Homo sapiens: one gene and its partners. The protein of the gene in region 4 interacts with the protein of the main gene of each other region in a pairwise test. Each region holds a gene or a part of one and is shown on either strand. Other genes may lie near its edges.

Evidence for each region.
Region 1: the proteins of MAGEC2 (region 4) and UBE2H interact in binary tests that used the Homo sapiens proteins (3 or more experiments, as listed by UniProt).
Region 2: the proteins of MAGEC2 (region 4) and SSX1 interact in binary tests that used the Homo sapiens proteins (3 or more experiments, as listed by UniProt).
Region 3: the proteins of MAGEC2 (region 4) and GLE1 interact in binary tests that used the Homo sapiens proteins (3 or more experiments, as listed by UniProt).
Region 5: the proteins of MAGEC2 (region 4) and MNAT1 interact in a two-hybrid assay, tested with the Homo sapiens proteins (one study listed by BioGRID).
Region 6: the proteins of MAGEC2 (region 4) and SSX2 interact in binary tests that used the Homo sapiens proteins (3 or more experiments, as listed by UniProt).
Region 7: the proteins of MAGEC2 (region 4) and P4HA3 interact in binary tests that used the Homo sapiens proteins (3 or more experiments, as listed by UniProt).

Annotation. Positions count from the first base shown.
Region 1 is NC_000007.14:129,837,689-129,841,593, reverse strand, and holds part of UBE2H (ubiquitin-conjugating enzyme E2 H), read left to right. Parts: intron 1-2,258; coding exon 2,259-2,387; intron 2,388-3,905. UniProt on the Homo sapiens protein: Accepts ubiquitin from the E1 complex and catalyzes its covalent attachment to other proteins. E2 ubiquitin conjugating enzyme that transfers ubiquitin to MAEA, a core component of the CTLH E3 ubiquitin-protein ligase complex.
Region 2 is NC_000023.11:48,253,751-48,258,367, forward strand, and holds the start of SSX1 (protein SSX1), read left to right. Parts: upstream 1-1,641; 5' UTR 1,642-1,682; intron 1,683-2,300; exon of another isoform or gene 2,301-2,386; intron 2,387-3,471; 5' UTR 3,472-3,491; coding exon 3,492-3,560; intron 3,561-3,995; coding exon 3,996-4,110; intron 4,111-4,617. UniProt on the Homo sapiens protein: Could act as a modulator of transcription. Plays a role in spermatogenesis.
Region 3 is NC_000009.12:128,532,134-128,536,038, forward strand, and holds part of GLE1 (mRNA export factor GLE1), read left to right. Parts: intron 1-531; coding exon of another isoform or gene 532-558; intron 559-1,379; coding exon 1,380-1,522; intron 1,523-1,627; coding exon 1,628-1,818; intron 1,819-3,905. UniProt on the Homo sapiens protein: Required for the export of mRNAs containing poly(A) tails from the nucleus into the cytoplasm. May be involved in the terminal step of the mRNA transport through the nuclear pore complex (NPC).
Region 4 is NC_000023.11:142,202,166-142,206,701, reverse strand, and holds MAGEC2 (melanoma-associated antigen C2), read left to right. Parts: upstream 1-1,411; 5' UTR 1,412-1,599; intron 1,600-2,246; 5' UTR 2,247-2,340; intron 2,341-2,648; 5' UTR 2,649-2,714; coding exon 2,715-3,836; 3' UTR 3,837-4,360; downstream 4,361-4,536. UniProt on the Homo sapiens protein: Proposed to enhance ubiquitin ligase activity of RING-type zinc finger-containing E3 ubiquitin-protein ligases.
Region 5 is NC_000014.9:60,737,460-60,741,364, forward strand, and holds part of MNAT1 (CDK-activating kinase assembly factor MAT1), read left to right. Parts: intron 1-3,905.
Region 6 is NC_000023.11:52,700,388-52,704,292, reverse strand, and holds part of SSX2 (protein SSX2), read left to right. Parts: intron 1-1,662; coding exon 1,663-1,712; intron 1,713-3,714; coding exon 3,715-3,850; intron 3,851-3,905.
Region 7 is NC_000011.10:74,273,236-74,277,140, reverse strand, and holds part of P4HA3 (prolyl 4-hydroxylase subunit alpha-3 isoform 1 precursor), read left to right. Parts: coding exon 1-156; intron 157-3,533; coding exon 3,534-3,596; intron 3,597-3,905. UniProt on the Homo sapiens protein: Catalyzes the post-translational formation of 4-hydroxyproline in -Xaa-Pro-Gly- sequences in collagens and other proteins.

The DNA of each region.
Region 1 (3,905 bases), on a different chromosome or scaffold from region 4:
CTGTCCAATACAGGATCTACTAGCCATGTGTGGTTATTTAAATTTAATTAGAATTAAATAAACTGAAAATTAATTTCCTTATTCACACTGGCCATATTTTGAGTGCTCAGTAGCCACTTATGGCTAGTGGCTATTGGTTTAGGTGAGCACATATAAAACATTTTTATCACTGCAGAAAGTTCGGTTGAGTAACACAGCTCTAGATTAGTCTCTAACTGCTCAGCTTCTTAACCTTACAGTGATAAGAGCCACCTCTTATAGGTAAGATTTTCTAGAGCAAAGTTGGGCAGACCTTGGGTACTTGTTTTTGTATATGTAGTTTTATAGGAATACAGCCACATCGATTTGTTGACCTATACTTTGGCTGCTTTTGTGTTACAGTGGCAGAGCTGAGTTTTGAGTAGTTATGACAGAGACCATATGTGGCCTGCAAAGCCTAAAAGTATTTGACCCTTTACAAAAAGGTTTGCCTACCGCTTTTATCTAGATCAGGGTTTCTTAACCTCAGCACTGCTGACATTTTGGTCTAGATAATCCTTTGTTGTGGGGCTGTCCTGTGCATTGTGGTGTTTAGCAGCTTCCCTGGCCTTCACCCACCGGATGCCAGTAGCACCGCTTAGATATGACAACCAAAAATGTCTCTAGACATTGCCAAATTCCATGGGGAGCAAAATCACCCTTGGCTGAGAACCACAAATCTCAAGCAATGTGGCTTGGCAAAGCATTCATCTGTAATACTGCAAAGGAGCGCCCATTGTTAAAAGCAAAATTGGTTGAAAGAGCTGACTAAATTAATGAGTAGTTTTTTATGCTACTTAGTATACTTCAGCATTGTCTCCAGAAACAGGAATGTTTTATATAAAACATGACAAAGCAGCTGGAGTGGGGCAGAGACATGGAAGCATTCTCATGTCCTTCCATTTCTCAGGGGTGCTGCAGTTCACTGAGGAGCAGAGTGTGGAAGTTACAGCATATCTGAGCTATGGGGTGTGTGGGTTGTGTTATACCCAGGTTCTCAGGGCCTGCTTTTCTAAAACGCTGGGTAACTGCAGGTGTTTGTTGTTTGCTAACTGTGTGTAGATATCATCTGTGTATGCCTGGCAAGAAAGGAGTTAATAAATGTCACGTCTATAATCCCAGCACTTGGGGAGGCCAAGATGGAAGGATCTCTTGAGTCCAGGAGTTCAAGACCAGCCTGGGCAGCATAAGGAGACCCTGTCTCTATTTAAAAAAAAAAAAATTAGCTGGGTATGGTGGCACATGCCTATAGTCCAATTTACTTGGAAGACTGAGGCTGGGAGGTTGGCTTGAGCCCAAGAGTTTGAAGTTGCAGTGAGGTATGATCACACCTATGCACTCCAACTTGGGCAACAGAGTGAGATCCTCTCTCAAAAAAAAAACTTTTTTAAATAAATAAATGCAGTAGATTGGTGCTTATCTGTCTTATGAATATTTGTAGTCTTATGTGGTCCATATAGATTCCTATCCTCATTACCCAGAATAATTGAAAAATTGGTTATATTTACCTCCATTAGAAGTTGCAAGAATTGAATTAAATGTCAAGTCCTATAAAATTGTGTTCAAGGCTGAGCGCAGTGGTTCACACCTGTAATCCCAGCACTTTGGAAGGCCAAGGCTGGCAGGTCACTTGAGGTTAGGAGTTTGAGACCATCCTGACCAACATGGTGAAACCCCGTCTCTACTAAAAATACAAAAATTAGCCAGGCATGGTGGCAGGTGCCTGTAGTGCCAGCTACTTGGGAGGCTGAGGCAGGAGAATCGCTTGAACATGGAGGCAGAGGTTTCAGTGAGTCAGGATTGCACCACTGCACTCCAGCCTGGGCAATAGAGCAAGACTCTGTCTCAAAAAAAAAAACAAACAAAAAAACCCCACAAAAACTGTCTTCAATTCTTTTAAGACCCAGCATCTGAATACCTTTCAGAGTGGGGGGTTTTGTAAGCTGTAGAAAATGGCTGTGTGAAATAGCCATATAAATAGAGTGAAATAGAATTGGGAAAATTGTCCTTCAAAGTGAATGTCAGGTATATCTTTATCTCGTTCTTCAAATTAAAATTAAAATGTTTAAATTGGTATTGAAATGAATGTGTAATACAAGTCACATGTAATAGAGCACACTCGTATGGAGAATCATCCCCGTGTGAATATCTAAGAAGGTAAGCAGCTTGACTACTGAATGCAAGTGAATTTTAGGTGAACTTGCATTTCCCATGTGTGACATGTTTGTTTGGTTTTTCAGATCTTACCAATATATTTGAGTCCTTCCTGCCTCAGTTATTGGCCTATCCTAACCCCATAGATCCTCTCAATGGTGACGCTGCAGCCATGTACCTCCACCGACCAGAAGAATACAAGCAGAAAATTAAAGGTAAGAGGATGGGTAGTTTAACCTGGAGACAAAAGAACTTAAATCTGTTGGGCTTCAGTCATTAAAAGTCCTTCTTAAATTACTTAGTTCCTAATACTTTTTCTTAGGCCTAAAAAGAGACAGCTGTGGGCTGAAGTAGTGCTCACCAACCTCGGGTGGCAGTAGCACCAGTTTGCTCATCCTTTGCGATTTAGAATCCTATTTTCCCATCCTTAAAACAGTTTACGTGCTGATGGGATATGAGTTTCATTTAAATGAAGATAAGTTTGCGACTGGCCGTGGTGGCTCACGCCTGTAATCCCAGCACTTTGGTAGCCCGAGGCAGGCGGATCACAAGGTCAGGAGATCGAGACCAGCCTGGCCAACATGGTGAAACCCCATCTCTACTAAAAATACAAAAATTAGCCTGGTGTGGTGGCACGCGCCTGTAGTCCCAGCTACTCGGGAGGCTGAGGCAAGAGAATCGCCTGAACCAGGAAGCAGAGGTTGCAGTGAGCCTAGACTGTGCCATTGTACTCCAGCCTGGGTGACAGAGCAAGATTCTGTCTTTAAAAAAGAAAAAAAATCTAAAGCTCCACCTGGGTTCATTGGATTTTCCATTTTACCTCTGTGTATGTTTCAGAACTTTCATAGTGAAAAGTCTAGATACATGAAGCTCCACCAAGAAGCAAAGGAATTCAAAGTTTGTGAAATATACCTGCTGCTTTTAACCAATGGCAGGCATTAGTATCTAGCCAGTTTTTCACATGATGGGCCTATCTGCATAGCAGTCCAGAATGTTTGCTTCCTCAAAATGTGTGGCCTCTCTGAGGTACATTTGCAAGAGGTGGCAGTAGAAGTAATTTACCAGAGCTTGAATGTGCAGGTCTTCACTCTGAAATGTGCAGGTATGAGGCAAACAGGGACTATTCATGAAACAATAGCTTTTCTTCTATTTGTTTTCTAATTCTTCTTCCAAGGTCTCTATAGGGTATTGTTTGGAGCTGTTGTTGAGATAAAGCAGAAATAAATTTACTATAATTAATTAGATCTCAAGTGCTTTGCAAATTAATATCTAATTTATGTAGCAAAATATATAGCTAAGCAAACATGTATTTGAAGAAAAAGGCAGTCAGTTTCAGCCAGATAAAGTGCTGTTATGAGACTATATTAAAATTTTGACATAGGAATCACTTAGCAATGTCTGCAAACCACAGATATCTTGGAGCAGAGTATATTTCTCTAGTTCACATATGCATTCTGTCTCAACAATTTAGCAGTAGCCCTGTTTCAGTACATGTCTGCTATAGTCCCATTTACAAAAAGAACCGAGCCTACATTTATCTTAGAATGGCTCACTCCAGCGTACGGACCCCTAGCCTTCGGAAATGTTCATGTTGGCTATCATTTTGTCTTCCTTAGTAATCTCAGAAAATCATGGCCATCAGACCTGAGCTCACCCCCACTTCCTACTGTGCCTTGATATCTTCTCCCTTCCCTCCTGCATCTTTTCTTTGTTCCTAACTATAGGAAATAAAT
Region 2 (4,617 bases), about 94 Mb from region 4:
GGATTGCTTGAGGCCAGCAGTTCCTTCCAGATCAGCAGGGACAACATAGCAAGACCCCATCTCTAAAAAAAAATTATTTTAATTAAAAATAAATAAATACATAAATAAAAGCACAGACTTTGGACTCAATTCTATCTTGGGGGTGAATCCCAGCTCTGTCACCCACTGACTATGTGACTTTGAGCAGACTGCTTAATTCTCTTGAGCCTCAGTCTCAACATCTGCATACTGGGGATGATAATAGTATTTAACTCCAGAGAAGGTTGTGAAAATTAATGGGAAGATGCACATAAAAGGCTTTGTGCTGGGCTCAAGGGCCATTGCTCTGTTCCTGCCCTAAGAGAGCTTGCTGTAATCCTGGGAGGATCTTAGAGAGATCAGGGCTGTAGGTGGAAAGCCCAGAGAGGAATGGGGACTTGTTGGAGGTACTAGGGATGGGGGTAGGGGAAACTTCTTAGACAAATTGACTTATGAGCTCCCTGATGAACACAGTGGGCCCTAATTACATACTCTTTTTAATACTATTATTATAAATATTATTAATATCAATGGGTAAAATATATTTCTGCTTCTTTGGTCTTTTAGAAAAAAACATATATGGAAGTGTAGAAGTGTTTTTTTTTGTTTAAATTTCTTTTTTAAAAATTTTTTATAGAGATGGGGGTCTCACTATGTATCCCAGATTGTTCTGGAACTCCTGGCCTCAAGTGATCCTTCCACCTCCTGCCTCAGCCTCTCAAAGTGTTGGGATTACAGGCATGAGCCACTGGGACTGGCTCATTGAAATTTTTCTTTCTTTCTCTTTCTCTCTCTCTCTCTTTTTAAAGACAAGATCTCGCTCTGTGGCCCAGGTAGGCAGGAGTAGCCAGATCATGGCTCACTGCAACCTCGTACTCCTGGGCTCAAGCTATCCTCCTACCTCAGCCTCCTGAGTAACGGACTACAGGCACACCACCCCACCTCGCTAATTTTATTTATTTTTTTTGTAGAGAAAAGAGACAGGGTATTGCTCTGTTGCCCAGGGTGGGGTGCAGTGGCATGATCATGGCTCACTGCAACCTCTGCCTCCCAGGTTCAAGTGATCCTCCAGCTGTGGCCTCCCTAAGTGCTGGGATTACAACCGTGAGCCGCCGCACCGGCCCAAATTTCTTACGTCACTACAGAGTTCCTAGGAAAAAATCCCATACCTGAAAAAGATAGAAACTGACAGGAAGGATTTGAGATGATGACCTGCTTCATATACACTCCTTATTAAAACTGGATAACAATGCACCACCGAGGAGGTGGGGAGGGATAGGAAAAATGAAAAGAGAAAATCAGCGCATGCGTACTCTGATTTGGGAAGACTCCAAAGAGAAAATCAGAGCATGCGTACTCTGAACTTGGAGTAGCCAATCCCAGGGGATGCTTTAGGCGGGAAAGTCAGAGTTTCTGCCTCCATTTTGAGAAGGTTCTGTCCCTAGAGCCTAGACTGATAGACCCCACATCAGCTTGGCTTGTCCCGCCTACTGTTCTGACTTCTGATTGGCCAGATGGAGTTCACTAACTGCCCTGATTGGTCCATCATCCTGGAGCAATGACATTGCAGAATATTTTCTCCTCCTCCAGCCACACTTTGTCACCAACTGCTGCCAACTCGCCACCACTGCTGCCGACCTCGCAACCACTGCTTTGTCTCTGAAGTAGGTTCTCTTTAAGGGACACCCTAGATGGGCTAATCGGGGCAGATAGAAAAGGAGGAAGCCTCTGTAGGGCCGTCAAGTGCTTGGGGTTCCGAAAATCTTGAGGACTGAAAGACAACTAATGCCTTTCAGGACGATCATCATGGAGGATCCTCCCGCCTCGGCCTTGGGTCTACAGGCCTGTATTATCCCACCCCTGTTTTTTTTTTTTTTTTTTTAGTAGAGACGGGGATTTGTTATGTTGACCAGGCTGGCCTCAACCGCCTGGGCTCAAGCAATCCTCCCGCCTTGGCCTCGGGACTACAGGCACGAACCACCCCACCCTCACTAATTTTTTTTATTTTTTATTTTTTTAGTACAGACGGTTTTGCTATGTTGGCCAGGCTGGCCTCTGCCGCCTGGGCTTAAGCAATCCTTCCGCCTCGGCCCTGGGACTACAGAAGTGCACCATCCTGCCCATGCTTTTTTTTTTTTTTTTTTTAGTAGAAACCAGGTTTCACTATGTTGGCCAGGCTGGCCTCAACCTCCTGGGCTCAAGCGATCCTCACACCTTGGCCTCAGGACTACAGATGTGTGCCATTCCGCCCCTGCTAGTTTTGTTGTTGTTGTTCTTTTTAGTAGAGACAGGGTTTCCTTATGTTGGCCGAACTGGGCTTGACCTCCTCGGCTCAAGTGATCCTCCCACCTCGGCCTCGGAACTACAGGCAAGAACCACCTCGCTGATGTTATTATTTTTGTTGTTATTATTAGTAGTAGAAATGGGGTTTTGCTATGTTGGCCAGGCTGGCCTCAACCTCCTGGGCTCAAGAGATCCTCTTGCCTCGGCCTCGGAACTACAGGCGAGCACCACCCCGCCCCCACTAATACTTTTTATTTTATTTTATTTTTTTTAGTAGAGGGTTTTTCTAGGTTGGCTAGGCTGGTATCAACCTCGTGGGCTCAAGCGATCCGCCCCCCCTTGGCCAAAGAGCTGAGATGTTATAGGCCTGTGCCACCGCCCCCAGCTAATTTTTTGTGTGGTTGTTTTTTTTTTTTTTTTTTTTTTTTTGTAGAGATGAGGGGTTTGCTATGTTTCCCAGGCTGGTCTCAACCTCCTGGGCTCAAGAGATCTGCACGCCTCGGCCTCCCAAAATGCTGGGATTACAGGCATGAGCCACTGCGCCTGGCCGATTGCTGCAAATTGAAACACCCCACATTTTCTCTAAGTGATGGCAGGCTCTTGTAATCTCAGAGATTCTAGCTCTCTTCCTTCTAATAATTTACAAATAACCCAGTAATAGCTTCTAAATCTGTTCATATTAGTGAAGGTCATTTCTCTTCAACAGAACAGAACCCCCCCATCCCTCTGCCTGATCAGATCCATCACCAGAAAGACCACGTTATGTCTGGGACTCACTTCCCTCCCTTTATTTATTGAGTGGGGGTGTCAGAACGCCCCCATTCAATAAAATTACACAGTCACGTCCCTGCCTCCCCAGCAAGGGTCTGTACATCTTTCAGGGTAAGCCTAGCCCCAGGGAAACTACTAACAACACTAGCCAACCCCCTCCCAAAGACTCAAGGCTGCTAGGAAACCTGTCATCCCCAAGCAATACTTCTCCCAGAGACTCCAGGCTCCCTGTTTTCATCTGACTTCTCTCCATGTCCTTACCCATGGACAGGTAAGCCCCGAATGGAGAAATGCAACCCCTAATTCCAGGTGACTGAGTGTGGCCGGGCTTCACTGATTTCTCCCTCCATAGGACCAAGGGTCCTGTAGCTAGAAAGTCTCAGGCTGTTTCTCTTGCAGGTGAGACTGCTCCTGGTGCCATGAACGGAGACGACACCTTTGCAAAGAGACCCAGGGATGATGCTAAAGCATCAGAGAAGAGAAGCAAGGTGACGTGACCTGGAGGGGGCAGAGCAGTGGTCCAGGGGACAGAGTAGGGTGACCAGGTTTCTGAGGAGGGGAGGACAGAGGTACTGGGGACAAGGAGCAGGGTCTCGGGGGAGATCTGGACCCTTGGGAGCCTCCCACCTGTGTTCTGTCATCACCTAGCATCCCTGGAGACAAGTCTCTGACCTTGCTCTACATTTGGTAACTCTCAGTCCATTCTGGAAGGTGGGAAGAGAGCCAGACAGCAGCATTAAAGCCCTAATGTGTGCCACGGGAGAAGCTAGGGTAGGTCCCCCATGGTCTCTCAGTTAGCCATGGCATCAACCAGGACGGATTATCATCCTCACTTCCCAGATCCAGCACACAGGAAGCGGCTCCAGCTGAATGGCAGACATACCTAGCTGAGTCACTGACAAATTTTATTTTATTTTTTTTAGGCCTTTGATGATATTGCCACATACTTCTCTAAGAAAGAGTGGAAAAAGATGAAATACTCGGAGAAAATCAGCTATGTGTATATGAAGAGAAACTATAAGGCCATGACTAAACTAGGTAACAGAAAGTTCTAGGAACAGACAAGTCTGGGGATACATGAGCATCCCTTTTCCTGCTTTGGCTACTTCTTAGGCTGCAGAAAGTACCCCACATTTTCCTTTTGTGCAGGGAAAAATCGCAAGGCAGCTTCTGGGGGTTCTGCTCTTCTGTATCCTGTCAGAGCTGAGGGCAGGGACTGGCCATAGTGGAGCTTGTACCTGGACCTTGCACTTTTCTCTCCCTTAGGCGTCTGTTCTGATCAGCCCAGCTGTCTCTGTGGCATTGCAGCACACCTCCCACCCTACCTTCCTCCTCTCAGCTTGTCTCTTTCTCTCTCTCTCCCTTTTTTTTTTTTTTTTTTTTTTTTGAGTCAGAGTCTCACTCTGTCACCTAGGCTAGAGTGTAGTAGTGCAATCATAGCTCAATGCAGCCTCGAACTCCTGGGCTCAAGCAATCCTTCTGCCCAGCCGATGGAGTAGCTGAGGATATGAGCACATGCCTCCATGCCCAACTAATTTTATTTTA
Region 3 (3,905 bases), on a different chromosome or scaffold from region 4:
AACTGGAGATGCTGTATTAATTAAAACATTGACTTCAGGACTTCAGGTAATGGAAAGTAATTCAGATCTGCTTTGCTTTTTTTTTTTTTTTTTTTTTTTTTTTAGGGAGGAGATGGAGTCTTGCTTTGTCACCCAGGCTGGAGTGCAGTGGCACAATCTCGGCTCACTGTAACCTGCGCTTCCTGGGTTCAAACGATTCTCCTGCCTCAGCCTCCCCGAGTAGCTGGGATTACAGGCACCCGCCACCACACCTGGCTAATTTTTGCATTTTTAGTAGAGACGAGGTATCACCATGTTGGTCAGGCTGGTCTCGAACTCCTGACCACAAGTGATCTGCCTGCCTTGGCCTCCCAAAGTGCTGGCCCAGATCTGCTTAAGCAAAAAAAAAAAAGCATTTATTGGAAAGATAAAGAAATATCCTACAGAACCCAGTGGCAGGAATGAGGTGAGGTCTCAGGAGCTAGAAACTTTAGTTCTTTTTTCCTCTCTCATCTCATCTGTCCTCTCTACATCTCCATTCTTATTTTATAGATTGCCGTTCTTTGGTCTTCATGGCAGGTACGCAGCCCCCACTGCTTGTGAGTGTATGTGACACAGGGCCAGCTACCTCAAGGAAGTGACTCTTAGTTGACTGACTGGCTCAGCTTGACTGCCTCTAATCTAACTGTAGCTAGTGTGGGGGTGGAGCACACAAAATCTTTGGTACAAATATAGCTGTTACGAATCCACTTCTGTGTCTCTGAGGACGGAAGAAGGCAAGTCCTGAGAAGGGGGCATATCATCATGAGCTGGTTAGATCCTTTAGAAGGTTTTTCCTAGAGATGTGACTAACTCCTCTAGAGATACCAACCACAGTCCATGGGGTCTGTAACAAAATGTAACACCTCTTTCTATACTGTTTATCCCTTCATTTTATGTGTACAGTAAGGGATACTGTTTATCCCTTCATTTCTGTAGGGCAGCACAGCTGGGTTTTTGTAGATGCTTTGTAATTACAATGATGAAACAGGCTGGGCATGGTGGCTCACGCCTGTAATCCCAGCACTTTGGGAGGCCAAAGCGGGCGGATCACTTGAGGTCAGCAGTTAGAGACCAGCCTGGCCAACATGGTGAAATCCCATCTCTACAAAAAAAAAAAAATACAAAACTTAGCCCAGTGTGGTGGCGGGCGTCTGTGATCCCAGCTACTCAGGAGGCTGAGGCAGAGAATTGCTTCAACTCGGGAGACGGAGGTTGCAGTGAGCCAAGATTGTGCCACTGCACTCCAGCCTGGGCAGTAGAGTGATACTGTCTCAAAAAAAAAAAAAAAAAAAAAAAAAGGAAAAGAAAAAGAGATTGATCTGTGGTTATATCTTTTAATTTCTCTCTATCATGCTCAGGCTCAAAACTGAAGGAGATCTTTGACAAGATCCACAGCCTGCTCTCTGGAAAACCTGTTCAATCTGGTGGGCGCTCTGTGTCTGTCACACTTAACCCACAGGGGCTGGACTTTGTTCAATACAAACTGGCAGAGAAATTTGTGGTGAGAAACCTTGTTGCTAGAGGTATGGGAAGCAGAGGCTGGTGTACAAGATTTCAGCCTTTTTCTGGTATTAAGTTAAAATTGTACCCACCTCTATGTTCTCAGAAACAAGGCGAGGAGGAAGTGGCCTCTCACCATGAAGCAGCATTCCCCATTGCAGTTGTGGCATCCGGGATCTGGGAGCTCCACCCCAGAGTGGGGGACCTCATTCTTGCTCATCTACATAAGAAGTGTCCTTACTCTGTTCCTTTCTATCCCACTTTCAAGGAGGGAATGGCTTTGGAAGACTATCAGAGGTAAAGTTGTTTTTCTCCCTACTCACTATCCCTAGAGTGATTAATGAAATATAAATAGAATTGGAATTTGTTTTTCCCTCCTCACAGCTCCTATTACGTACCTTGAATGTTCTATCAGAAATATAATGTCTTTCGGCCGGGTGCAGTGGCTCATGCCTGTAATCCCAACATTTTGGGAGGCCAAGTTGGGTGGATTGCCTGAGCTCAGGAGTTTGAGACCAGCCTGGGCAACATGGAGAAACGCCATCTCTACTAAAAATACCAAAAATTAGCCAGGTGTAATGGTGCACACCTGTAGTCCCAGCTACTCAGGAGGCTGAGGCACGAGAATTGCTTGAACCCGGAAGGCGGAGGTCGCAGTGAGCCAAGATCGCACCAGTATACTCCAGCCTGGGTGACACAGCAAGAGTGTGTCTCAAAAAAGAAAGAAAAAATATATATACATAGTCTTTTATGTAAACTGGAGAGCCTTTGGGATTTGTGAACTTAGGTGCCAGTAGTCAATGTAGTTTAGTGGAAAGGATACTGGGGTCTTGGAATTTTATCCCTGCTTTGTCATTTAATACCTTTGCAAAAATGGACAAATCATTTAGTCTTTTTGAGCATCTTTTCCTGATTTTTAAATGAGGGTAATGACATCTATTACCTCCTGTGAATTTACCTCATGGCTTACATGAAGCTCAGATTTGATGATGGATATGAGTGCTTGGTAAACAAAGTATTCTACAGATGTAATAATATGTAATAATATATATACATATTTTTTATTTTTTTTATTTTTTTTTGAGACAGCGTCTCGCTTTGTCACCCAGGCTGGAGTGCAGTGGCGTGATCTCAGCTCACTGCAACCTCTGCCTCCTGGGTTCAAGTGATTATCCTGCCTCAGCCTCCCGAGTAGCTGGGACTACAGGCGCCCACCACCACGCCCAGCTAATTTTTATACTTTTAATAGAGATGGGGTTTCACCATGTTGGCCAGGATGGTCTCGATCTCTTGACCTTGTGATCTGCCCGCCTTGGCCTCCCAAAGTGCTGGGATTACAGGCGTGAGCCACCACGCCCGGCCTGTAATAATATATTAATAGTAATGCTGAGTGTAATAATATATTGTTATTTTTTAGCCATAAAAAGTAATCTCTGGGCCAGGTGCAGTGCCTCATGCCTGTAATTACTTTAACAATTTGGGAGGTTGAAGCAGAAGGATCGCTTGAGCCCAGGAGTTCAAGACCAGCCTGGGTAACATAGTGAGACCCTGTCTCTACAAAATTAGCCAGGTGTTGGCTGGGCGCGGTGGCTCACGCCTGTAATCCCAGCACTTTGGGAAGCCAAGGCCGCCAAAGCGGGCGGATCACCTGAGGCCAAGAGTTTGAGACCAGCCTGGCCAATATGGGGAAAACCCGTTTCTACTAAAAATACAAAAAATTAGCTGGGCATGGTGGCAGGCACCTGTAATCCCAGCCACTCAGGAGGTTGAGGCAGGAAAATCGCTTGTACCCAGGAGGTGGAGGTTGCACTGAGCCGAGATCATGCCATTGCACTCCAGCCTGGGCAACAAGAGTGAAACTCTGTCTCAAAAAAAAAAAAAAAAGGCCAGGCGCGGTGGCTCACATTTGTAATCCCAGCACTTTGTGAGGCTGAGGCGGGCAGATCACCTGAGGTCAATAGTTCAAGACCAGCCTGGCCAACATGGTGAAACCCTGTCTCTACTAAAAATACAAAAAATTAGCCAGGTGTGGTGGCAGGTGCCTTAATCACAGCTACTCGGGAGGCAGAGGCAGAAGAATCGCTTGAACCCGAGAGGCGGAGATTGCCTGAGATCGTGCTATTGCTTTCTAGCCTGGGCGACAAGATGGAAATTCCATCTCAAAAAAAAAAATTAGCCGGCTATGGTGGCATGTGCCTGTGGTCCTAGCTACTCAGGAGGCTGAGGCGGGAGGATCACTTGAACCTGGGTGGTGAAGTTTGCAGTGAGCCTTGATCATACCACTGTACTCCAGCCTGGGTGACAGAGACTCTGTTTCCCAAAAAAAAGCAATTTATCTCTAATTTGTCACCCTTATTTTGGCCTTGTCCCAGTGAATTTTTTCT
Region 4 (4,536 bases):
GCATATAAAAAGATGACCAATGTCATATGTCATTAAGAAGAGGCAAACAAAAACCAAAGAAGGTTCCAATACATGCTTATGAGAATGGCTAAAACCTGAAAATCTAAAATACTCAATGTAAGAGAGGATATAGAATAACAGAAATTCTCATTCCTTGCTAGTTGTGATAAAAAATAGTACAGGCACACTTTTAAGTCAGTATTTTATGAAGCTAATCATATGACAAATTGGAAAAGTTAAAAGTATAGGAACTGAAAACAGAAGACAGTTGCTAGGAGCTTTGTAGAAGTGCGGTGATTGACCTCAAAAGGGATGCACAGGAGAAGTTTAGGCAGGTGGAACTGGTCAGTATGATACTTGGTTGGTAGATATGGGAGTCCATGCATTTTCCAAAATACATATAACTTCACATTCTAGTTAAATCTGATGTGTGTATTTAAAACTTTAATCACGTATTGGTTTTTTAAAGGGTCACGGGTTGCTGAAAAGACAGTGGTTTTTTTCAGGGACTAGGATAGGAAAAGAAGCAACAATAAGGAAGCCTTTAACACAGGGTATGGGAGAGATGACACTAATTTCACTCACAGCAGTAAAGTGGAAAAACTTGGAATGGAATTTAGAGGTCGAAGGAACAAATGTTGCTGTCTGGACAGGAGAAGGAAGGAGTATAGGCTCTTTTAGGAGTCATACCTTGAGAAAGACAGAGGGGCATTCCCACCCCATTTCAGAGGGCAGTGGAGGCCTGCCTTAGGGCTAGGAGGCCCTATCCCACTGTGGATGGATGTGATTCTCCCTCTCTTGCACCTTGCAGGTCTCAGGGATGGGAGGGGCTTATTCGGAGGTGAAAGACTCAGATGCACAGGGTCAGGCATCCCAGGCAGTATCAGGAGTCCAGGCACAGCCTCTCAGGAAGGCTGGAAGGGAACACCCATGACTGGTAGTGCCCCTCCCCTGTCCCTGCTGCCAGCTCTGGAGGACCCCATCAGGGTCCCCAGATGTACAATTTTCTGACTTCCATTTTGAGAGTCAGCAGAAGGGGAGGCTGTTGTCTCTGAGGAGGGCAGCTTCAGTTAAGCAGAGAAAGAAGTCCCAGAACTGGCCAAAAAACAAGAGAGATGTGGAAGGACGGTGACCTCCCAACACGGAGGGGAGGCGCAGACTGCACCAAGCCACTCCCTGCTGACACCCCTGGAAAAAGGAGAGTGGGGTGTCAAGGACTGGGGAGGTGGGAGTGAAGAGGTCCGCAAGGCTTAGGGAGTGAGCAGGAAGGGTTGGAGGGCAGCTGGGAGGTGGGGAGGAAGGGATGGAAAAAAAGCAGAGAGGTGGGGGGTGGTTCCTCCTCAGAGAGGAGGCCCCGCCCCACATTGACGCTGCGTCAGCCCTGGACAACCACGGCAGGGTTCCCGGATGTGCTTTCCCGACGGCCATCTTGGGAATCTGACGGATCGAAGGCATTTGTGAGGAGGCGCGAATCAAGTTAGCGGGGGGAAGAGTCTTAGACCTGGCCAGTCCTCAGGGTGAGGGCCCTGAGGAAGAACTGAGGGACCTCCCACCATAGAGAGAAGAAACCCCGGCCTGTACTGCGCTGCCGTGAGACTGGTAGGTCCCAGACAGGGAAATGGCCCCAGAAGAAGGGAGGAGGTGCCGGCCCTCTAGGGAATAAATAGGAAGACACTGAGGAGGGCTGGGGGAACCCCCACCTCAGAGGGCAGATTCCCAGAGATTCCCACCCTGCTCCTCAAGTATCAGCCCTCGTAGAGCTCCCCAGTCAGCTCAGGCGGGGTGGCAGCCATCTTATTCCTGGGTGAGTGGCGTAGGGGAGGCGGAGGCCTTGGTCTGAGGGTCCCATGGCAAGTCAGCACGGGGAGCTGCCTCTGGTTGGCAGAGGGAAGATTCCCAGGCCCTGCTGGGGATAAGACTGAGGAGTCACATGTGCATCAGAACGGACGTGAGGCTACCCCGACTGCCCCCATGGTAGAGTGCTGGGAGGTGGCTGCCACCGCCCTACCTCCCACTGCTCTCAGGGATGTGGCGGTTGCTCTGAGGTTTTGCCTTAGGCCAGCAGAGTGGTGGAGGCTCGGCCCTCTCTGAGAAGCCGTGAAGTTGCTAATTAAATTCTGAGGGGGCCATGCAGTCCAGAACTATGAGGCTCTGGGATTCTGGCCAGCCCCAGCTGTCAGCCCTAGCAGGCCCAAGACCCTACTTGCAGTCTTTAGCCTGAGGGGCTCCCTCACTTCCTCTTGCAGGTGCTCCAGGAACCAGGTGGTGACGAACTGGGTGTGAGGCACACAGCCTAAAGTCAGCACAGCAGAGGAGGCCCAGGCAGTGCCAGGAGTCAAGGTGAGTGCACACCCTGGCTGTGTACCAAGGGCCCTACCCCCAGAAACAGAGGAGACCCCACAGCACCCGGCCCTACCCACCTATTGTCACTCCTGGGGTCTCAGGCTCTGCCTGCCAGCTGTGCCCTGAGGTGTGTTCCCACATCCTCCTACAGGTTCCCAGCAGACAAACTCCCTAGGAAGACAGGAGACCTGTGAGGCCCTAGAGCACCACCTTAAGAGAAGAAGAGCTGTAAGGTGGCCTTTGTCAGAGCCATCATGGGTGAGTTTCTCAGCTGAGGCCACTCACACTGTCACTCTCTTCCACAGGCCTGTTGGATCTCATCATCCATATCCCTGTTGATACGTTTACCTGCTGCTCCTGAAGAAGTCGTCATGCCTCCCGTTCCAGGCGTTCCATTCCGCAACGTTGACAACGACTCCCCGACCTCAGTTGAGTTAGAAGACTGGGTAGATGCACAGCATCCCACAGATGAGGAAGAGGAGGAAGCCTCCTCCGCCTCTTCCACTTTGTACTTAGTATTTTCCCCCTCTTCTTTCTCCACATCCTCTTCTCTGATTCTTGGTGGTCCTGAGGAGGAGGAGGTGCCCTCTGGTGTGATACCAAATCTTACCGAGAGCATTCCCAGTAGTCCTCCACAGGGTCCTCCACAGGGTCCTTCCCAGAGTCCTCTGAGCTCCTGCTGCTCCTCTTTTTCATGGAGCTCATTCAGTGAGGAGTCCAGCAGCCAGAAAGGGGAGGATACAGGCACCTGTCAGGGCCTGCCAGACAGTGAGTCCTCTTTCACATATACACTAGATGAAAAGGTGGCCGAGTTAGTGGAGTTCCTGCTCCTCAAATACGAAGCAGAGGAGCCTGTAACAGAGGCAGAGATGCTGATGATTGTCATCAAGTACAAAGATTACTTTCCTGTGATACTCAAGAGAGCCCGTGAGTTCATGGAGCTTCTTTTTGGCCTTGCCCTGATAGAAGTGGGCCCTGACCACTTCTGTGTGTTTGCAAACACAGTAGGCCTCACCGATGAGGGTAGTGATGATGAGGGCATGCCCGAGAACAGCCTCCTGATTATTATTCTGAGTGTGATCTTCATAAAGGGCAACTGTGCCTCTGAGGAGGTCATCTGGGAAGTGCTGAATGCAGTAGGGGTATATGCTGGGAGGGAGCACTTCGTCTATGGGGAGCCTAGGGAGCTCCTCACTAAAGTTTGGGTGCAGGGACATTACCTGGAGTATCGGGAGGTGCCCCACAGTTCTCCTCCATATTATGAATTCCTGTGGGGTCCGAGAGCCCATTCAGAAAGCATCAAGAAGAAAGTACTAGAGTTTTTAGCCAAGCTGAACAACACTGTTCCTAGTTCCTTTCCATCCTGGTACAAGGATGCTTTGAAAGATGTGGAAGAGAGAGTCCAGGCCACAATTGATACCGCAGATGATGCCACTGTCATGGCCAGTGAAAGCCTCAGTGTCATGTCCAGCAACGTCTCCTTTTCTGAGTGAAGTCTAGGATAGTTTCTTCCCCTTGTGTTTGAACAGGGCAGTTTAGGTTCTAGGTAGTGGAGGGCCAGGTGGGGCTCGAGGAACGTAGTGTTCTTTGCATTTCTGTCCCATATGGGTGATGTAGAGATTTACCTGTTTTTCAGTATTTTCTAAATGCTTTTCCTTTGAATAGCAGGTAGTTAGCTTCAGAGTGTTAATTTATGAATATTAGTCGCACATGTATTGCTCTTTATCTGGTTTAAGAGTAACAGTTTGATATTTTGTTAAAAAAATGGAAATACCTTCTCCCTTATTTTGTGATCTGTAACAGGGTAGTGTGGTATTGTAATAGGCATTTTTTTTTTTTTTTACAATGTGCAATAACTCAGCAGTTAAATAGTGGAACAAAATTGAAGGGTGGTCAGTAGTTTCATTTCCTTGTCCTGCTTATTCTTTTGTTCTTGAAAATTATATATACCTGGCTTTGCTTAGCTTGTTGAAGAAAGTAGCAGAAATTAAATCTTAATAAAAGAAAGCCCCACTGACTCCTTTATTTGCTGAACATTCTTTTAGTATTTGCTTGTGGAAGTCACTGTTAGTATTGGGGATACTAATAAAAGCATGACTTATCTCTACCCGTAAAACAGTAGAGTCTAGGAGCAGAAGCCATATTAAGAAGGTGGTAAGATGTTCTCTACAATCTAAAGAACAAGTTAAAAAG
Region 5 (3,905 bases), on a different chromosome or scaffold from region 4:
TATGCATATGTTTTCCTCTTTTAACAATTTGATAGTAGTCCATTGTTCAAATATAATTTATTTACCCCAATTTTTAAAATTAATATTTAATTATCCAGTTTTTCCTTGGAGTAAGCATCCATAAATATGCATATATATGTACATATATGTCTTTGAGCATTTAGGCCAGTATATCATAAGATATAACAGGTAAAAATCACAAGGTAATGTCCAGTAGTAGAATTGTTGGGTCAGAGTTTGTGGCTTTTAAATTTGATAAATATGGCCCAGTTGTTCTCAAAAAAGATTATGTCAAGACAGGCATGGTTGTTCCTACCTGTAATCCTAGCTACTTGGGAGGCTGAGGAGGGAGGGTTCGAGACCAACTTGGACAACATAGGGAAACCCTATCCTTTTTTTTTTTTTTTGAGAAGGAGTCTCGCTCTGTCGCCCAGGCTAGAGTGCAGTGGCGCAATCTCGGCTCACTGCAAGCTCCGCCTCCCGGGTTCACGCCATTGTCCTGCCTCAGCCTCCCGAGTAGCTGGGACTACAGGCGCCCGCTACCACGCCCGGCTAATTTTTTTGTATTTTTAGTAGAGACGGGGTTTCAGCGTGTTAGCCAGGAGGGAAACCCTATCTTACAAAAAAAAAAAAAAAAAGATCTTGTCAATTATGTTACCAACAACTGTATGGAGATTCCTATTGCCACACAACTTTGCCTATATTGGCTAATATTATTTTTTAAAATCTTGCATTTTAAAAGATGTTTAAAAGCATCTTATCAGATGCTTTTCTGATAAGAAAAACATCTTGGATTTTTTTTTTTTTTTTTTTTGAGACGAAGTTTTGCTCTGTCACACAAGCTGGAGTGCCGTGGCATGATCTAGGCTCACTGCAACCTCCACCTCCCAGGTTCAAGTGATTCTCCTGCCTCAGACTCCCGAGTAGCTGGGACTACAGTCGCATGCCACCATGCCCGGCTAATTTTTGTATTTTTAGTAGAGACGGGGTTTCACTATGTTGGCCAGGCTGGTCTCGAACTACTGACTTCGTGATCCAGCCGCCTCGATCCTCCCAAAGTGCTGGGATTACAGGTGTGAGCCACTGCGCCCGGCCTGAGATGGAGTTTTGCTCTTGTTGCCCAGGCTGGAGTGCAATGGCGTGATAGCTCACCACAACCTCTGCCTCCCGGGTTCAAGCAGTTCTCCTGTCTCAGCCTTCCGAGTAGCTGGGATTACAGACATGCGCCACTACCTCTGGCTAATTTTGTAGTTTTAGTAGAGATGGGGTTTCTCCATGTTGGTCAGGCTGGTCTTGAACTCCCGACCTCAGGTGATCCACCCGCTTTGGCATCCCAAAGTGCTGAGATTACAGGCGTGAGCCACCGTGTCCAGCCTCATTTTGGCTCTTAATGAAAAATTTTTTGATAGTTTGTTGAGTTTTTATGGCATATATTTCATGGGATTGAATATAGGCATTTTTATAATATGCTTGTTAGTCTGAGAAGAGCAGGTATTATTTTGCTGAATGATTCTGGCTCGGTCTTAGGATGTTGTAATCAAGTTGTTGGCTAGGACTGCAGTCTAGATTTGACTGGGCCTGGAGTATCTGTTTCCAAGGTCACTCATGTGGCTCTTGTCAGGAGGCTTCAGTTCCTCCCCATGGACTCTTCCATAGGGCTACTTATGACGTGGCTTCTCCCAGAACTAGTGATATGAGCGGAGGTAAGGAAGATTGGAGAGATGGATGGGAGAAGAGAGAAAGGGAGGGAGGAAGGGAACTGGAAGCTGTAGAGCCTTTTAAAACCTAATGATAGAAGTGATATACCATCACCTCTGGTGTTTTGTAGTGTTATAATGTGGGAGAGTACACACAAGAGTGTGAATACCAAGAGTGTGAATATCATTGGGCTATCTTGAAGGCTGGCTTCCGCAGGATTTTATTAACTTATTTTTTTTTTTTTCATGTCCTCAAGTAGCAAAGACTTTTTGGAGGCAAGTGATAAAGTGAGTAGGAGTAGTGCTTCATAAAAGAGGAACTATAGGGTTATGGAAAAATTAACTAGGAGTTTTACTTATGGGAGAAAATACAGGAGCAGAGAGGAGAGAAAAGAGGTGAAACATTATTAAATACCTTTGTCTCTTAGCTGCTAGCAATTGAAGAAGCATATTTCCCTACTTATCAATTTAATCTAGCAAATGCACAAATGAATTGATTGTATGCATATAGAAGAAGATTGGATTTCATGTTCTTTTTTTAATTTTTTCTGTTCAAGGATGAACATTGTCTCAATTACAGAAAATGGTAATTTTTTTTCTTTATCAGGCCACCTATTTCAAGAAATGGGCCTTCCATTCTGAAGGCATATAGAATTAGATGGAGGCAGTGGTATCTAATTCTCATTTAACTACAGCCTTTAATAATTTAATTTCTGTCTGGGTGCAGTGGCTTACGCCTGTAATCCCAGCACTTTGGGAGGCTGAGGCGGGTGGATCACCTGAGGTCAGGAGTTCGAGACCATCCTGGCCAACATAGTGAAACCCCGTCTCTACTAAAAATACAATAATTAGCTGGGTGTGGTGGCATGGGCATGTAATCCCAGGTACTTGGGGAGGCTAAGGCAGGAGAATCACTTGAACCTGGGAGGCAGAGGTTGCAGTGAGCCGAGATCACACCACTGCACTCCAGCCTAGGCTACAGAGCAAGACTCCATCTTAAAAAAAAATTAATTTCTATCCCAACCATTCTTGGCAAAACCTGTCTCTGGAAATTTTATGTGCTAAATCTACTTTTTTCATCACGCACGAGACGCAAAGTACAAGATAAGCAAAATCAAGTACCTACCATCTTGATATATAAAGGCAATGTTTTGTGATAGTTACTTAACATCTTTCTCTTTCTTTTTTTCCCTTTTTTTTCTGTTCTCCTATTTCTCTCTCATTTACTGATGTTACTGGATAGTTTATCCTGAAGAGTCCGAATTTTGCTTATTGCATCTCTGTGATATTGTTAAATATGTTCTTCTGTTCTCAGTATTTCCTCTAAATTGTTAGTTATGTTTAAAAGTTTTATCAGATTAAGTTTGAATTTATTTGTTGATAAGAATAATAAGTGGTGTTAACTCATTTAATATACTGATCTTATTCAGTACCTTTGTGCAAATTGGGAAACAGAGCCCCCTCTGGGTAGAAAATTAGGAAAAGGCACTTATTTTAGGTGGAAGATTTAGAACAGGAACATTCTAGATATATTATTTTATAATTTTCTGTTGTGATAAGAGGATATACTCTATAAAATTTCAGTCTTTTGAAGTTTTCTGAAAGCTTGCTTATGGTCCAGCATATGGCCTGTCTTTGTGAACAATCAGTGTACATTTGAAAAGAATATACATTCTGTGGTTGTTGGGTGTAGTGTAGTATAAGTTATAAACGTGGTACATATTACCATACCCATCTTGGTTGATAGCATTACCAGATCTTCTGTATCTTTATTAATTTATTTTATCTACTCATCTTATGAATTACTCCACTATGATTATAGATTTGTCAGTTTTTCTTGTAAGTTTTGTCATACTTTATGCATTTTGGAACTCTCTTGTTGGGTACATATTTGGGATTGTTATGCCTTCCTAATACATTTCTCCTTTTATCATTATGAAATGGCCCTCTTTGTCTCTTGTAATATGCTTTTTCCTGAAGATTCTGTCTGATAATAATTTGGCACTGTCAGATTTCTTGTGCTTACTATTTGATAGTGTGCATTTTTCCGTTCATTTACTTTAAAAAAATTTTTTAACCCATGTAATATCAGTGGCACAATCATAAACTCCTGGGCTCAAATGATCCTCCTGCCTCATCCTCTTGAGTAGCTAGGACTACAGGTGCATGGCACCACACCTGGCTTATTTATTTATTTATGTATTTATT
Region 6 (3,905 bases), about 90 Mb from region 4:
TATGGATAATAAGTAAATGGTAAATGTATACAAACATGAATGTGAATAAAAAGCCATCAAATTAAGGTGACTGGCTGTAAGTGGAGGAGGGAGGGAGGGCGGGCAGGGATTACTGAGTGCGGCACAGACAGCTTCAGCTGTGACTTGTTGATAGTGTGTTTTGTTTGTTTTTGTTTTTGAGATGGAGTTTCACTCTTCTCGGCCAGGGTAGAGTGCAATAAGGCAATCTCAGCTCACTCCAACTTTCACCTCCTGGGTTCAAGTGATTCTCCTGCCTCAGCCTCCCGAGTAGCTGGGGTTACAGGCACGTGCCCCCACACCCAGCTCATTTTTTAATTTATGGTAGAGACGGGGTTTCACCATGTTGGCCAGGCTGGTCTCAAACTTCCTGACCTCAGGTGATCCACCCGCCTCAGCCTTCCAAAGTGCTGGGATTACAACTGTGAGCTACCACGCCCGGCCTATTTGCAGTTTTTCTAATATTCTGAATAAATAAATCAGACCTAACATAGCTGTGGGGTAATGTTGAGATCCGACTGGACTCAATATTATTCCCCATACTTTTCTGTGTGTTTGAAATATTTCTTTTTTAAACGACATGTTGTTCTTCCTAAGCACCGTTAATGAATCAAAGGACTGCTAAAAAAATGCTACAAGTGAAAAAAAAAAAAGAAAGAAAGAAAGAAAGTGTTAAAACTGTAGATCCGCCAAAAACTTCCAGAGTTTGTTTCATTAACAGCATGTAGGTATTGGATAGGTATCTTAGGAGTGAGGGTGATGAACACATTATGTAATAAAGATCGCTGTTTCTCTGTATTGGTTTATCAAAACCAAATAGTCTTCTCATTCCCAAAGAACCCTGATTCTCCGTAATGAGCTTGGAAGAGAGTTTGAAGGAGTGATCCCTTATCCAACACACAGAGAGCTTTCCCACTTGTCAGAGAGCAGAGATAACATAGGGTGAAAAAAAGATAGGTTCTTGGGTAGAGAGCTTTGTACATTTCAGGAATATAAAGGGGACATATGTATTTACTTGCTCTTCTACTCTGACAACATAATTATAAGACAAGGTCAGAATGTCCAAACCGTCTCCAATAGACCTATTACTCGCCAACTAAACAGGCCAGATTCTACAATCTCCCGCAATCACTATAAGAGACCTGAAAAGCCAGTGCTTGAGTATCTGCCAAGTTTTGACAGTAAAGGAGTGTCTTTATACTGAAAATATTTCAGAGCCACTGGACCAAATCATCCATGGTTCATCACACATTTAACAGCTTAATTCACATACCATAAGATTCACCCATTTGAAGTGTACAATGATTTTCAGTTGTTGCACATCTTGAGTGGATACAGTTCAGATTCCTAACCAATCAATTTAATTATTTGGGAAAAAGTAAAAGATATGTAATGGAATAAGATGAGACTGTGATGGGGTGTAGTCCCCATGTGATAAACCATGAGATGGAAAATTCTGAATTGATGCCACAGATAAATGCACCAACCATGACTAAACATAATTCAGAAGCAAATCTGAAATAACTCCTCAACAATGAGTGGACTCATAACCCTCTGCTGCAGAATACCCTGATGCGACAGAAGTCTCTCTAGAGTTTGGAAACCTTTACCAACAAAGAAAAATTCTGATGTATTCTCTTTCAGTTGAACGTCCTCAGATGACTTTCGGCAGGCTCCAGGGAATCTCCCCGAAGGTGAGTGTCTCTCAGATCTAAAGGACCAGAGAACCTTTGTCCCTCCACGGATGCGAACACTGGTAAGAGTGGGAGAATATCAAAAATGCCCTCACTGCCTTCTTCTCCCCATGTCTATCACAACACCTGATGTCGCACCGACGGCTTGATAGTACCAACAGTTGCGATTGTTAATACTTCTTTTGTTTTCATAGTGATGCCAGATACTATTTCAAGCAGTTCACATGGATTAATTTATTTAATCCTTAAGAAGACATTGTTTCTATTATCTCCAAATAATAATGAGTCACACACTTCAGTTTTCATCCATATGAAAGCCATGTGACTTGACACAAATCTTCTAAGTTCTCTGAGCTCCAGATTCCTGGTCCATGAAATGGAAGTAAAGAATTATAGTTCATGTTTTAGATCATAGTTATCAGCAACATAATAATAAAATGAGGCTATCGTGGTACAGAGATGTTAAAGAATTTTCCTGGGGCGCAGTGGCAGTGGTAGTCTAATCCAGAGCTCCAAGCCATTTAAAGCTCATTCACATTTGCATTTGTCTATGAAGTTCAGATGTTGCTCACTAGGGCTTCACCCCATAGGGCCTGCTGGTGCTTCCAATGAGACACCCACTCTCTCAACAGGAAGGACCATCTGGTCTCTGCTGTGTTGCTGGGGCCACTTGCATGGCTTAGGAATCACTTTGATTGTTGGCCCCTCCCTACTGTGAGCTCCTTGAGTGCCTTGTCTGCACCTGGGGCATCTGGGAAGGCCCAGTCCCAGCCCAGGGGATCCCTCGGAGGCCCCTGAATGAGTGATCCCACAAGTGCAGATTCAACTCTGGTTTGGAGGGTAAAGGGATCTGGGAGTTGGGTTGCCAGTGTGGAGACTGAATTCAAAGAAGGATTGTGAAAGGTATTAATTGTTATTATTACGACATTTAAACAGTGTTTACAAGCTCAGAGAGGACTTTACTGTAGGCTATTTGACATGTATGGTTCACTATTTCATAAGGGAGGAAGCTGAATGAAAAGTAGCTTAAGAGCCGGGCGCGGTGGCTCACGACTGTAATCCCAGCACTTTGGGAGGCTGAGGCGGGCAGATCACGAGGTCAAGAGATCGAGACCATCCTGCCCAACATGGTGAAACCGTGTCTCTACTAAAAATACAAAACTTAGCGGGGCGTGGTAGTGCCTGCCTGTAGTCCCAGATACTCTGGAGGCTAAGGAAGGAGAATCGCTTAAACGCGGGAGTCGGATGTTGCCTTGAGCCGATATCATGCCACGGCACCCCAGTCTGGCGACACAGTGAGACTCCGTCTCAAAAAAAAAAAAAAAAAAAAAAAAAAAGAAAGAAAGAAAGAAAAAAAAAAGTAGCTTAAGATTGTTGGTCAGTGACACATCCCAATGCAACCAGAATTGGTATGGGTACCACCTCACTGAATTCCACATTGAATGTCGGTGCCCCAGTAGGGTAGTATGTCATATCTGGTACTGCTTTGTTTGCTGCCTAGATTAATTTCGGCAAACCATTTCTTTCCCTCTCCCTTCCCTGTATTCATCTCCCCACACCATCTTTCCCAGCAGTGTTTTGTCGCCTCCCTATGTTTTTACATTTACTCTCCCAGCAGCTGTCTAGAAGCTTATATGGGATCCCTTGTATTTTACAGAACCTCTTCCCTTTGTAGACCTTGTGAATTCTTAGAATGCTACTCTTCTCCAAATCATCTGTATATCACACTCTCAATTACATGGAGATTTTTGCTGTTTGCAAGAATGTCAGTCCTAAAAGAGTGGGAAGATAAGCATTCTATCCCTGGAAACCATATTCACTTAGGCCATTCCTTTCCCTTCTAACCTCCCCTCCCAGGTTTCTCCTAATTTAGGCCTGTGTAACTCTCCCAGTGTTGTTGAGAACATTGAATAAGCTAATGCATGTGAAGACCCTTTGTAAGCTCAAAAGCACTATAGATATGTCACTGATACTATTTATCTGTGATCTTCACATTATAAAGATCATGCCCAAGAAGCCAGCAGAGGAAGGAAATGATTCGGAGGAAGTGCCAGAAGCATCTGGCCCACAAAATGATGGGAAAGAGCTGTGCCCCCCGGGAAAACCAACTACCTCTGAGAAGATTCACGAGAGATCTGGTAAGAGGAAGCAATTCAGGAACAATCCCTCTGGCTTCCCTGGCGATGTTCAGGT
Region 7 (3,905 bases), on a different chromosome or scaffold from region 4:
TGGCTGAAGGACACTGTTGACCCAAAACTGGTGACCCTCAACCACCGCATTGCTGCCCTCACAGGCCTTGATGTCCGGCCTCCCTATGCAGAGTATCTGCAGGTGGTGAACTATGGCATCGGAGGACACTATGAGCCTCACTTTGACCATGCTACGGTAATGGTGGAGTCAATGACCAATCCCCTGGGGTAGGGAGCCAGGGCATTATTTATTTCTCTGAGGCAGAGCTCTTGTAGGCTCTCAGGGAATACTAAGTGAAATCTTAGAACAAAGGTTCTTTTTCCAGAAATATCTGAAAGCCTTAGTTTCAAGCATATTGTTGCTGACTCATTTTCTTGTCTGCCACCATCTCCCTTCTAAAATTTGCTGGTGAGGGAAGAATGTGGCTTGTCATGGAATCATCGGACTGCTCCACTCAGGGACTTCCTAGTGAGGATTGTCCTTCCTCCAGTAACTCTTCTAGCCTCATGATCTCAACTGGCCATCTTTGCTGATAATAGCAAATAATTTTTTTAAAATTTTAGATTCATGGGGTACATGTGCTTGTTTTTTATTTACGTATTTATTTATGTATTTATTTTTTTCTTTATAGGCAGCATCTTGCTCTGTTGCCCAGGCTGCAGTGTAGTGGCACCATCATAGCTCACTGCAGTCTTGAACTCCTGGGCTAAGTGATCCCCCCATCTCAGCCTCCCAAGTAGCTCTAGGACTACACCTGGCTAATTTAAAAAAATTTTTTTTGTAGAGACAAGGTCCTGCTATGTTGCCCAGGCTTGTCTTGAGCTCCTGGGCTCAAGCGATCCTCCCACCTCAGTCTCCCAAAGTGCTGACATTACAGGAGTGAGCCACTGCACCCAGCCATACTTGTTATATGGGTATTGCATGTGTAATGGTGGGGACCACACTTCTAGTGTACCCATCACCCAACTATTGAATGTTTTACCTGACACGTAATTTTTGAACTCTCACTCCCCTTTCACCCTCCCCCATTTTGCAGTTTCCAGTGTTTGTTACCTCCATCTTTATGTCCATGTGTACCCATTGTTTAGCCCCCACTTATAAGTGAGGACATGCAATATCTTATCTTCTGCTTTTGAGTTAGTTCACTTAGGATAATGGCCTCCAGCTCCATCCATGTTGCTGCAGAGGAAATTATTTCATTCTTTTTATGGCTGGATAGTATTCTGTTATGTATATATACCTTATTTTCTTTATCAAATCAACCATCGATGGACATTTAGGTTGGTTCCATGACTTTGCTGTTGTGAATAGTGCTGCAATAAATATCTGGGTGCAGGTGTTTTTTCTGTAATATAATACTTTATTTTCCTTTGGGTAGATACCCAGTAGTGATTTTTGAGGATTAAAATGACCTCCCCAAAATTGATCTATAAATTGAACCCCAGCTTTATAAAAATTCCAGGAGGTTTATTTTTGTAGAAATTAGCATGCTGATCCTAAAATGTATATGGAAATGCAAAAAACCTAGAGCAGCCAAAACAATTTTGAAAAAGAAGAACAAATTGGAGGACATACACTATCTGATCTCAAAACTTAATATAGAGCTACAGGAATCAAGGCAGTGTGGTACCAGTGTAAGGAGAGACACATATGTCAATGGAACAGAACAGAGTCCAGAAACAAACCAACACATTTATGATCAATTGGTTTTGACAAAGGTGCCAAGGAAATTCAATGAAGAAAATACAATCTTTTCAATAGACAGTATTGGAACAATTTAATATCTATCTGCAAAATAATAATGACTTTACACCCTTACCTTACACCATATATGAAAATTAACACAAAATGGGTCATAGATGTAAATGTAAAACTATAAAACTTCTAGAAGAAAACATAAGAGAAAATTTTTGTGACCACAGGTTAGGCAAAGATTTCTTAGATATGACACCAAAGTATGATCCATAAAAGAAGAAAACAACTGATAAATTGGACCTTATCAAATTAAAATTCTTTGCTTTTCAAAAAACATCATTAGAAAAGGAAAAGACAAGCCACCAACTAGGAGAAAATATTTGCAAATCATATATTTGGTAAAGAACTTGTATCCAAAATATCTATAGAACTTTTATAACTCAGTAATAAGATAATTCAATTTTTTTTAATGGACAGAAAGTTATTTGAGTAGGCACCTCTCCAAAAAGGATAAATGAATGGCTAAGAAACATATGGAAAGATGCTCAACATCATTAGGGAAATGCAAATTAAAACCACAATGAGATAGCACTGCACTCTCTTATGATGGCTACAATAAAATAAGATTATACCAAGTGGTGGTGAGGATGTGGAGGAACTGAAGCTCTCATACACTGCTAGTGGGAATGCAAAATTATACAGACACTTTGGAAAAAAGTTTGATGGTTTCTTAAAAAGTTTAAGATTCACCTACTTATGATCCAGCCATTTCACACCTATGTATATTACCCAAAAGAAAAAGAAAATATGTCTCTACAAACATTTGTACAGAAAAGTTTATAGTAGCTTTATTTGTAATAACCAAGAATTGGGGCTGGGCACGGTGGCTCATGCCTGTAATCCCAGCACTTTGGGAGGCCAAGGCAGGCGGATCACGAGGTCAGAAGATCGAGACCATCCTGGCTAACACAGTGAAACCCCGTCTCTACTAAAAATACAAAAAAAAAAAAAATTAGCTGGGCATGGTGGCAGGCGCCTGTAGTCCCAGCTACTTGGGAGGCTGAGGCAGGAGAATGGCATGAACCTGGGAGGCAGAGGTTGCAGTGAGCTGAGATCACGCCACTGCACTCCAGCCTGGGCAACAGAGTGAGACTCCATCTCAAAAACAAAAAAAAAAAAACAAAAAAAAAACCAAGAATTGGAAACAGCCCAGATGTCTGTCAACAGGTGAACGGATAAACAAATTTTGATATATCTGCACAATGGAATGCTATAGAGAGAAAGCAGATAAGTGGGTTGCCTGAGGTTGGAGGTGAGAGCAGGGATTGACTCCTAACTGGCATGAAGGAGCTTTTCAGCAGATGGAAGTGTTCTGTGTTCTAAACTTCAATTGTGGGAAAACTCATTGAACAGTAGGCTTACAAGGGGTGAATTTTATGGAATATAAATCATATCTCAAACTGTTCCATGACAAAAAAAAAAGAGTATGTCTCTTCAGCAAGTAATTGGAACTCTGGCCTTATGATTTGGTATTTCTACAGAATAATTGTCTGTAATATTTTATATATTAATTTCTATATTTCACAGAGAACTCAAAGGTGCAATTAACCCCTCATATAGTACTTTCACTACTGACAAGTAGTTCTGTTTGGTAGTAGACAATTCTTTTATATAAGTATCTAATAAATTAGTAAAAAAAAAAATTGTATTGAGTACCTGCCAGCAAAGACGGGCACATACTCCAGTAGGTGTATATCAGAACTATATCCCATCTTTGATGCCCCCATTTTACTTCTATTTGTATTAATAGTGGAATCCTGCCTGTCCCTCTGGTGCCATCTGCATAAAATAATATGTTCTGTTTTTTTTTTTCTCAGTCACCAAGCAGCCCCCTCTACAGAATGAAGTCAGGAAACCGAGTTGCAACATTTATGATCTATGTGAGTATTGCTCTGGGCTTCTTACTTCATGACTGACTATAGCTCTACTTTATTTTATTGTTTTCAAAGCAATTTCACGTATTGATTTTATCTGGTACTCAGCGCAAAAATCTCCAGGAATTTTGCGAATTTCAGACAGCATTTTTGATAGGCACTGTAGGAGATGTAAAGAAATACAAGACAAGGTTTCTACCCTGAAAGAGGCTGACAGTGTGTAAATCTAAATATGACCTTGGTATGGGCAGTGGATTAGGATGGGAAGTGGAGCTCCACTGAAGGCCAAGAGATAGAGGGACTTGAACAACACAG